3 linked regions of the Homo sapiens genome follow. The protein of the gene in region 3 purifies or fractionates together with the protein of the main gene of each other region. This does not show direct contact. Each region holds a gene or a part of one and is shown on either strand. Other genes may lie near its edges.

Evidence for each region.
Region 1: the proteins of ADGRG5 (region 3) and ANO6 purify together in Homo sapiens (co-immunoprecipitation; 3 studies listed by BioGRID and IntAct, with this or other methods). This does not show direct contact.
Region 2: the proteins of ADGRG5 (region 3) and ATP13A3 purify together in Homo sapiens (co-immunoprecipitation; 3 studies listed by BioGRID and IntAct, with this or other methods). This does not show direct contact.

The regions. Positions count from the first base shown.
Region 1 is NC_000012.12:45,214,498-45,218,249, reverse strand, and holds the start of ANO6 (anoctamin-6), read right to left. Parts: upstream 2,156-3,752; 5' UTR 1,929-2,155; coding exon 1,859-1,928; intron 1-1,858. UniProt on the Homo sapiens protein: Small-conductance calcium-activated nonselective cation (SCAN) channel which acts as a regulator of phospholipid scrambling in platelets and osteoblasts.
Region 2 is NC_000003.12:194,404,463-194,407,027, reverse strand, and holds part of ATP13A3 (polyamine-transporting ATPase 13A3), read left to right. Parts: intron 1-911; coding exon 912-1,109; 3' UTR 1,110-2,565. UniProt on the Homo sapiens protein: ATP-driven pump involved in endocytosis-dependent polyamine transport. Uses ATP as an energy source to transfer polyamine precursor putrescine from the endosomal compartment to the cytosol.
Region 3 is NC_000016.10:57,540,991-57,544,742, reverse strand, and holds the start of ADGRG5 (adhesion G-protein coupled receptor G5 isoform 1 precursor), read right to left. Parts: upstream 2,101-3,752; 5' UTR 2,097-2,100; coding exon of another isoform or gene 2,042-2,096; exon of another isoform or gene 1,686-2,041; coding exon of another isoform or gene 1,570-1,685; intron 1-1,569. UniProt on the Homo sapiens protein: Orphan adhesion G-protein coupled receptor (aGPCR). Ligand binding causes a conformation change that triggers signaling via guanine nucleotide-binding proteins (G proteins) and modulates the activity of downstream effectors, such as adenylate cyclase.

The sequences.
Region 1 (3,752 bases), on a different chromosome or scaffold from region 3:
GACCCCTACAGTAGAGACCCCAGGGCCCCACAGGAATAGTGGGAAATGCCCTACTAATATTAACACTAAAGTATTAGTATTAGTAGTTTCTAGAGGGTGGGGAGGAGTAGAGATATTTAACTTTTTCTTAAGTCTATCTACACTGTTTGACTGGACAAAACTAGCATGAATGACATGTCATTAAAAATAAAAAGAGCTTACTGCCACACGCTTAAGATGAATTTATACGATGCCTCAATAGGTAAACACAGACTAGACCAAATTACTTTCTAAACTGAGATCTACTGCTGGCACAGTAAAACAAAGCTCAGAGCCTCTTGCTTACTTCAGTTTCCATTTGAGCTTCTGCCCTTATTTACTTACAATACTCATTATAAACAGTGCAGCTCACCATAAAAGACAATAATACTTTCCTGGGAAACAGACTGTGTCAATTTTATTGTAACTTTTTAAATTTCACTCCTATATTTTTATGTAATCATCAGGTACTACTTAATCTTGCTAAACAGTAGTAACAGCCAGAGTGACCCAGTGGTAAGAGCATTAATCTTCACTGGTTTTACAAGTCAGAAAACCTGGGTTTGAAAGTGTGAGAAGCTGGGCAGACCAACCTGTGCGCTTCAGTTTTCTCTCCTATAAAAACTACTACTATTTGCTCTCTCCTTAAAGATGAATAACTAGTAAATTGTTCTTAAATGAATGAATGAAATGTGAAACTAAATCATGGAGTGTAATCTCCTCTATTCGATTTGTCCCTGGACAACCAAGAAGTTACCAAATTTTTTTGATCGAAATATTCCGTGCCCAAAATGTAACAGAAATAAAAACCACACCCAACTCCTAAAATTAAGTTACTTTTAAAGTTATTAGATAACAACAGGGCTTTAGAACATCAGCAGGATGTTCTGCTTTAAAATTGATTTGGCATCCAGGAGACTAAGCCGAGTCGCCACAACAGACTGGCTTGGTAATTTAATTAGAGTCTTCTGGAGGGACACATTATATCATCATCCCCCGACAGTGTTCTCTTTAGGGACCTGATTTTCTCTCTAGTCCTCTCATTCCTTTCCCCTTCCTCACCTCCTCTCATCCCTTTTGTTTGCCCTTTTTTTCTTTTTTTGCTCTTAAAACAGCTCTCCCTCCGTTCGTCTTGTCACTTCCATGCATTTTTAACTCTAACTAGAAATGGGTCACCCCAGGTTTGCTCCCCAAGCCCCAGGGCCCCTCAGGACGAGTGAAAAAGGCCCTGCGGTCCTCCCTGCCTGGGGGAATTCCTCCTCCGATCACAGCTCCGGTGGGCTCCGCAGATGGGAAAGGGTTTCCAGCGCGCGCCTAGCGGCCACAAATCACTTCCCGGGGCCGCCCCGCCAGGCCTCAAACCTCCCAGAGCCGTCGGTCGGCTTTTACTTTAACGAGGATTCAGATGGGTCACACCCTGTCCTCCAAATGCGGGCCTGCTCCCCGGACCCCGCCCAGGGGGCTCGCCCCAGTGCCGAGGCTCCTGGGCAACCCTAGCACTCTGCGAGTCGGGGAAGTGACCCCAAAGTTGCTTCTGAGTGGAGACTTCCGCACGCAGAGGCGTCCCCGCAGCTGCCAGGCTTTTCAGGGGCAGCATCCCCCGCCCGTCAGGAGCCTGTCCTCGGGGCCACCACGCGCCCCGCGCCTCAGCCCCGCAGGGGCCGCACCGGGGCCTCAGTCTGCAAGCAGCCGGGGACAGCGGGCTTCCTCCCCTGCCCGGAGCGGCCGAGCGTCTCGGCCAACCTCCCCCGCGGAGAGCACAGCGCCCCCGCGCAGTCCCCGAACTTCTTCCCGCGTCGGCTCGGGCTCTCGGGTGGGGACGCGGGGACCCCTCGCTCACCGATATCCCCATCGTCGTCGTCCTCCTCCTCCTCCATTTGTAGCAAAACATTCCTGCTCATCTTTTTCATGTCTCCCTCAGAAGGCGGCTCCGAACTTGGCGCGAAGTTGGGGGCTCCCGGGTTCCAGAACGGCGCGGCTCTCCCAGGGGCCGGATCGGGGACCGCGGGGCGTGTGTCGCTTGGGCTCAGGGGCCGCTGAGCCCAGCCAGCGCCGGGGAAAGCCGAGCCGAGGCACCCACCGACCGGAGCCCAGAGCCGGAGGACGCCTCTCGCCTGCCGAGCGGAGCCCGGAGACTGAGCATGCCCAGTGCGGCCGCCGCGGCTCGCTGCGGAATGATTGAACTTCCCCGGTTTTACGAGGCGCGCAGAAGGAAGTCGGCAGGCGAGACTGCAGAGGGAGTAGTGCGATCCTGCGCGCGGGGGAACTAGCTGGAGGGCAAGGCGGGAACACGTGAGTGCGGGAGTGGACTGGGTTCCCTGAGCATTGATCCCAAACAGGGCAGCTTTTCGTTCCAAGGTCGTCTGTGGACACACACTGTGGCTTGCTTTGTTTTAACGTCTGATACTGGAGAGGAGGGAAATGCTGCTGCAGCACAACTGCAGAACCCTGGAAGGCGAACTCGTTTGAATGGCTTTTAAAGGCGACGTGGAGCTAATAATGGGGGGATCTTAAATTACTCTAGCTCCGAAGTGGGAAAGTGGAATCTGTACGGGTAGGTTAAGATTACGGTGGAGTCGGGGTGGGAGGAGAGGCAAAACTCAGAGAATAAGCAAAAGAAGAAGGGGCGGGACGGACGGGAGTGGGGGTGGAGAGAATTTTCTAAATAAACGTGTGCACAAAGGCAGGAGGATTTCCGCATACATTGAGGTCGCGGAGAGTGGAGAAGCGCCCCCTACTCCGCCCGCGCGAGCACACAGGGAGTGGTCGGAAGATAATCGCTGAAGCGTCCAGCCTATTTGTACAATTGAAACTAGTCCTCTGTGTCAAAGAGGGAGAAGAAGCCGAAGACCACTAGAGTTAGATGTAAACTCTTCTAAAGCAATGTGGAAAGCTATAATAAGAGAAAAGAAAGTCGTGAAATAAAATTAAGGCAGAGAGTTTTTATTTTTATTTTTAATGCTTTCCTGGAAACCAAAGGGACCGATAGGACAAATACAAAGGGATTTAGTACTTTAAAGACCCTTGGAGTTGTTTGAACGGCAGGTTTTGGGGATCGCGTGTCTACAAAACTTTTTTCAAAAAAGCTGGTACATTCAGGTTGTTCAATTTTGACTTCTCAAAAGGGCTAGAAGGTATATTTGAAATCTTGGTTATATGTGTTATTGTCTACTCATTGAAATTGTTTATATTTTTTCCACTGAAGTGCTAGGGTTATCACAATAACACTAAATCTACTGTGCATGTTTTTTCTTCCACATACTTTTTTTAAGACGGTCTCGCTCTGTTGCCGAGGTGGGAGTTCAGTAACTAGAACTACAAGCGGAGCACACCACCATGTGGGGCTTATTCTTAAATTTTTTTGTAGAGATGGGTGTCTCACTATGTTGCCCAGGCTGGTTTCGAACTCCTGGCCTCCAGCAATCCTTGCACCTCAGTTTCCTAACATTTTTAATGTTCTCTCTGAAAGAAAGAAAACATTGGGACCAATCTTAAGTGGGAAAATAGACATGAATATATACATGAAAAGACATGATGAAATTACTTTTAAGAAAATACCTGGGAAACACTATACTTGCTTCTTGAGGTACTTTTTTTGAATAAACAGAATTGTTTTTAGTATAAAGAGACAACAATACAGTACTCTGAAGATAGGAGAAAAAAATGATGGGAGAAGAAAGATGAGAAGAGATTGTTTCCTTTCACTGAACACTCTCCCCTGAGCTTGTGAAACT
Region 2 (2,565 bases), on a different chromosome or scaffold from region 3:
AGGATCATTTATCTAAGGCCAAATTCACTAAAAACATCAGGATTGATCAGAAGGATTTCAGTGACAGCAGAGCTTTTTGCAATGAAATAATACTAAGCAATAGTACTTGTTTTATACCCCTTTCCAGTCGTGGAGCACCGACGGAAACCATCATTATAAAACAGTATTGTTTTTTATATTAGTAAGGATGAGGTTTTAAAAGACGTAATTGACATTAAACATGATTGAAGCCCTAATTTTGACCAAACGATATTTACTTCATGTTTTGAGAGATGATATTAACAGTAACAAGGATACTTGTACACAGCTTTCTTCCAAAAATGATCATGCGGCTAAGTTGCCAGGAGCAATAGTACCAAAAGATAGTTTGGGACAGAATGTGAAGATTTTCAAATTAAATATTAAAAATGTTTTCTCTTTCTGAATGGCTTAAAGTTCTTAATACATTAGATATTCTGTGGTAAAGAATCCATATCTGCAAGTTATTTAAAAGGTATTAGTACACAAGAGTATAGGTATATAAAACTAAATGAAGTCAATCATATTGATTATCCCCCCAAAAAAAATATAATCTAAAGAATAATCAGTTCCTAAATAATTGAAAGCTGCCCTTACAAAATAAAACAAAAGAACACACATTTCGTTGTGTTGCCCAGGCTGGTCTCGAACTCCTGGGCTCAAGCAGTCCTCCCACCTCGACCTCCCAAGATGCTGGGATTTCGGACATGAGCCACCACGCCCGGCCAAAGCTGCCTTTTTTTAACATGGATTTTTTTTTCCCCCATTCGTTGTGCTCAGAAGTCATTTCCTCTTATTTTTCTCTGCTAATGTGTGCTTTAACAAACCTGTTTAAAACGACAAGCCTTTAATCAACTGGGGTGTTTTGTTTTGTTTTTTTCTTATTTTCTTAGGAGTCAGTGGATCGGTGGGGAAAATGCTGCTTACCCTGGGCCCTGGGCTGTAGAAAGAAGACACCAAAGGCAAAGTACATGTATCTGGCGCAGGAGCTCTTGGTTGATCCAGAATGGCCACCAAAACCTCAGACAACCACAGAAGCTAAAGCTTTAGTTAAGGAGAATGGATCATGTCAAATCATCACCATAACATAGCAGTGAATCAGTCTCAGTGGTATTGCTGATAGCAGTATTCAGGAATATGTGATTTTAGGAGTTTCTGATCCTGTGTGTCAGAATGGCACTAGTTCAGTTTATGTCCCTTCTGATATAGTAGCTTATTTGACAGCTTTGCTCTTCCTTAAAATAAAAACAGAAAAATATATCGTCCTAACAGTTAAATTAACAATCAATCCATAAAGTCCTATATCTTCATTCAGCAACCCAAATATTACATACATTTCCAGAATTTTCTTGATTGTTACTTTCAGTGATATTCTTTATATTGGGTACAGGAGAAGTTTGGTGTTTGGTAGGTTTTTCAACATTAGTTTTTGAGACTAGTTTACCTCTTCACATTTATGCTCACAACCCTCTTGTTAGAAAAGTCTGTGTTTATATACAGGCTGTAAGTTTGTGATTGATAAAAAGAAGATGAGTGTTAATTAGCCTCCAGTGAAAATATACTGAAAGCCTGTTTTCATTTGATTCCAATGTTTCTTCCAAAGAATTCTGTATAAACATATGCCAATTCCCTATGATGGTCTAGAGTTAGGAATGAGTGTTTATGGTGTTGCTTATAGAACAACTCAGGTAATCTCCATTTCTGGTTTTATATTTTCTGTACAAACTGCCTGGGTTTTATTTTTCTAATCAGCAAGGTGCTTCACTGCCTTCTTGAGACGCCTCTCAAAGCTCTTAAATGGCTCCTGTGCTATGTGTGGTGTTGGCAGTCTAATTTGCTTCTGTTAAATGTTGTAGAACCTTTTTCACTAGGAAATAAGATTCATTTCTTTCGGCAGTAGATGTAGATTCATCTTTTAACGTTTCTTCAAATTTGTTTCTGTCAGGCTTTGTGTTATTTTAAATGGTTTTTTAAAATTTTCTTCTATGTTTTCAATTACCTAAAGACATAGGATAATAGTTTTTTTTAAGTTAGAATTTTACCTCATAAAATTTTTTGAGGTTTGATGTATGTCTCTGTCTTATCAATAATGAGGCTTAAAAAATACTGGATTTGAATGGCTGCCGTTTTTTCAAAGCAATATGAATTTGATGAGTTTGTTTTATGCCATTAGGTGGCGCCAGAGGTCAGAACATGTCTATTTTGAATTGGATCGTTACAAATGAGCATATTTGATGCGGAAATTTCTGGGAGAAAAAAAATTGAGGAAATAAAGTTAAAAAATTGACATTCATTGAGCCAAAAGAGATGTGGAGAAACATTTTTCACCTTTCTGTTTGGCCTGATTAACATTTAAATTCTTGCCAAAATTAAGGTAACTTTTAAAAAACACCTTTTATAGGTGGATCCAGCAGTCTGGCAACGCCCACAGTTACCACAACACAGAAAACTGATCGTGCTATAAAATGGACGCTAAACTATGAAAACAGTGTGACATTGTTCTCTGTTCTTCCAGAGCCAGTAACATGCTTGCTCGTGCTTTCTACT
Region 3 (3,752 bases):
ACTGAAGGAACTCATTCAGGAGAGATAACTCAGGCCCAGTAGTGGAGGACCTGACAGCACAGAAAGGATCTTGGGCCAATTTGTCCACCCCTTCACTATACTGTTGGTGAAACTGAGGCCCAGAGAGATAGATGGATTTGACCTGCAAGGTGTAAGACCAGGCTCTTACCCCCACTGGTTCCAGGCAGGCACTGAGGGAAGAAAAGCCTGACCCTACCACACAACTGAAGAAATTGAGGCCAAAGCAGAAGTGATACCTCCCCCAGGCACTCCAGATAGAAGCTGTGGTTTCCACCCCCTTTCCCAGGAGCAAACCACAGTCTTCACTTCTGCTTGCAACCTCCAAATTCCCCTCCACATCCCTTCAGAGAGGTCACCATGCACCATCCCCCCACACGCTGAGCCATTTCATTCTCCACCCTGCAATTCATTATTTGTGGCCTTCTAGGAAACAGCAATCCCTTATCTGACTTCCAGGATGGTTCCAGTTGATGGTGGGGAAACCGAATACTGCGTAAGAGGAGTCTGCTTGAGGTTCTACAGCAGGCCAGTGGGCAAGCTGGGACTCAAACCCAGGCCTCCACGGTCCAGGGCACTACCCCCTGCACACTGCAGCCTCCCAAAGATGGTTGGGCAGCTGAGTTGCTTTGCAGACAAGTAAGACTCTATTTAGGCCAATAGAGAAATGAGGAGCTGTGGAGCACAGGACAGAGCCTTTGGAAGATGAGAATTTGATAACCAGTTGCAGTATTCAGTGCCTAGGCTGTGTGACACTGGGCAGGCACCTGACCTCTCTGTGTCTCAGGTTTTCTCATCTGTAAAATGAGGCCAAGGAAATCTATTTCCCAGAAAGAGAAATTCAAACAACAATTTCCCTGATCCTCTCCTGGGAATCAGGCCCTGAGAAAGGTCCAGGGCTCTGATCAAAGTCCTTGGCCAGGAATACATCTGAGCACAAGGCTTGGGAACCCCTGCCTTCCTCCCTACAGCTGACCATGCACCCCCGAAGCCCACCTCTCCCCAGCAGCACGAAGGCCTACTGAGCCAGCCATTCTCCGCACACAGCCCCACCTGCCCCTGCCAACCACAGTCTGGAGCCCCTGCCCCTGGCCTGGGTGAGGAATCAATCAACCTGTGGTCTCTGCAAAAAAGCACTAACAGGCCAGGAACGGTGGCTCACGCCTGTAATCCCAGCACTTTGGGAGGCCAAGGCAGGTGGATCACCTGAGATCAGGAGTCCGAGACCAGCCTGACCAAAGTGGCGAAATCCCGCCTCTACTAAAATTACGAAAATTAGCCAGGCATGCTGGCTGGTGCCTGTAATCCCAGCTACTCAGGAGGCTAAGGCAGGAGAATCGCTTGAACCTGGGAGGTGGAGGTTGCAGTGAGCCGAGATCGCACCACTGCACTCCAGCCTGGGCAACAAAGCAAGACTCCGTCTCAAAAAAAAAAAAAAAAAAAAAAGCCCTAAGAAATGCTATAGTAACCCTATTTCCCAGGTTGGGAAAGAGAGGCCACCCTGGAGCCCAACAGGAAGTCTGTGACCAAGCCAGCAGCAGGTCCATTTACCTGAGACATGCTGTCCCCAGGATCCAATCCAGGTCACTCTGAAAGGAGCTGCACCTGCTCCAGATTGCCAAGCACAAACTGTGTGCCAGGTCCTCTACTGAGCCCCTGACAGCCATCCAAGGTGCAGGTTCCCAGACTCACCCCATTTTACAGATGAGAAACTGAGGTCCAGAAAAGAAACCTCTCTTCACTTGTCCCAGACCTCGCGGGGAAGCTAAGATTCGAGACCCATGCCTAACCACTTCTTAATTTAAATTGCCCCTCCTTCCAAAAGCACAGATCTCTACATTGCCCCAGATGTGGAGCTGCCAACCAGAAAGGGAAGGAGGGTGGGTCCCCAGCTTGCTCACCAGGATATCACCAGGTCTGTGCCCACCTGGACATGGGTATGGCCAGTGCCCACTGAGGGGCCTGTGGATAAGGACAGAGAACTGGGCAGAGGAGAGTGGGGAGAGGCCCGGAGGAGGCTGACCTGAGAAGCTGCCGCTGCCGTCTCAGCTGCTGTCTCGGCTGCTGTCTTGTAGCTTCTGCAGGAAGAAGGGGAAGTCGGGAGGCGTCTGTGGGTGGCCTCTCCCTTTGCCCCACACCTGCACCCCCACTGCACTTCTCTCTGCTCCCTTCACCCCAGGCCCAGGCACCACACTCTCACTTCACTTCTTCTTTCACCAGCAGCAGCCTCTTTGCTTCCTTCGAGCTGTCGGTCATGCCCTGGTCACCCTTTGAGGGTATCACCCCGTAGAGTCTGCAGCTACTTCCTGGGGTGGCTGCTCCTCTGTGGAGGTGCTCAAGGACATGGCAACGTGGCCTTATGCAGTGCGCAAGACCCACCTGAGCTCTGCACCTTTGGGCAAGACATGTTGCCCCTCTGGGCCTCAGTTTTCCCATCTATAGAAAAGGGAAAATGATCCCTGCCTGACCTGACAATTGATGGCATATTGATGATGGCAAAGACCTCAGGCAGCAGCTTGGTCAGACTGCCTGGGTTCAAGTACCAAGCCCACCACTTACTGGGTGGGTGACTTGGGGCAAGCCACTCATGCTCTCTGAACCTGTTTCCCCTCTGTAAAATGGAGATAATGACAGTACCATCTTGCAGGGCAGTGTGGGGCTTACAAAAGGTAAGGCTGGCAAAGTCACTGGAAGTGCTCTATGAAGCCGTCATATTTCACAGATGAGGGACCTGAAGCCCAGAGAGGACCTGGGCCTGGCCCAGAGTTGCCAAGTGGCAGAGCATGGTGGAGAGGGGCCTCCCTGGCCACAGAGCCCAGAAAACATGAGGCTGGAAAGCTGGCCAGCTTCTCCTTGAGCCAGGCAGCTGGATAGGCCTGTCCTGCATCAGCCATACCCTCTGAAGAGCTCTAAGGGAAAGCAAGGAGGTGTGTGTGGGGGATAGAGAGAGAGTGTTGGTAATGGGGAGACGGTGCTCTCTCTTGCCTGGGCCCCATCCAGACTCCTGGGAAAACTGACTCAGGAATGTGCTCTTCCAGCCCTGGGGGAAAGATGGAGAGGCAGCAAAAGGGAGAAACCAGACAGGTCCTAACATGGTCTCCCCGCTCTCTGCCTCACTGGGGCCCTTCCCGCATCAGCCCAAATACAGCTTGCAGGTAGTACAAGTGGCCTCTGCTGAAGCAGGAGGGAGCTGCTCCTTGGAGGGCAGCCAGGTCCCCACCCCAGCTGCACGGTGAAGGTTTTGCAGGGACACCGGTGCACCTGTGTCCTGACTCCTGGGCTACACTCCCTCTGGGTGACTTGGGCAAGCCTTGGCCCTTCTTTGCGCTTCGGTTTTCTTTGATCAGGATCCAGACCTTGACCTCCAGGCTCTTCCTTTCCGAGGTCACCCAGCTACCTCTAGGATTGCCATGCCAACCTCCTCCTTCCTCATGCTGAATGTGAGCCCAACTGGCTATTCTTAGGGCTCAGGAGGAGGCCCTGCCTACCCCATAGCCCCTCTAGCCTGGGTCTGTACCAGCCTCACTGTGCCTTGCTTCAGTTGGGGGCTAAGTTAGTGCCCGTTACTTAGCCCTGCACTCCTGATCCTGAAGCTCACTACCAAGATACTCTCCTGCTCAAAAGCCAGTGGTGAGGCTGGGTGCGGTGACTCAGGCCTGTTATCCCAGCACTTTGGGAGGTGGAGGCAGGCAGATTACTTAAGGCTAGGAGTTTGAGACCAGCCTGGGCAACAT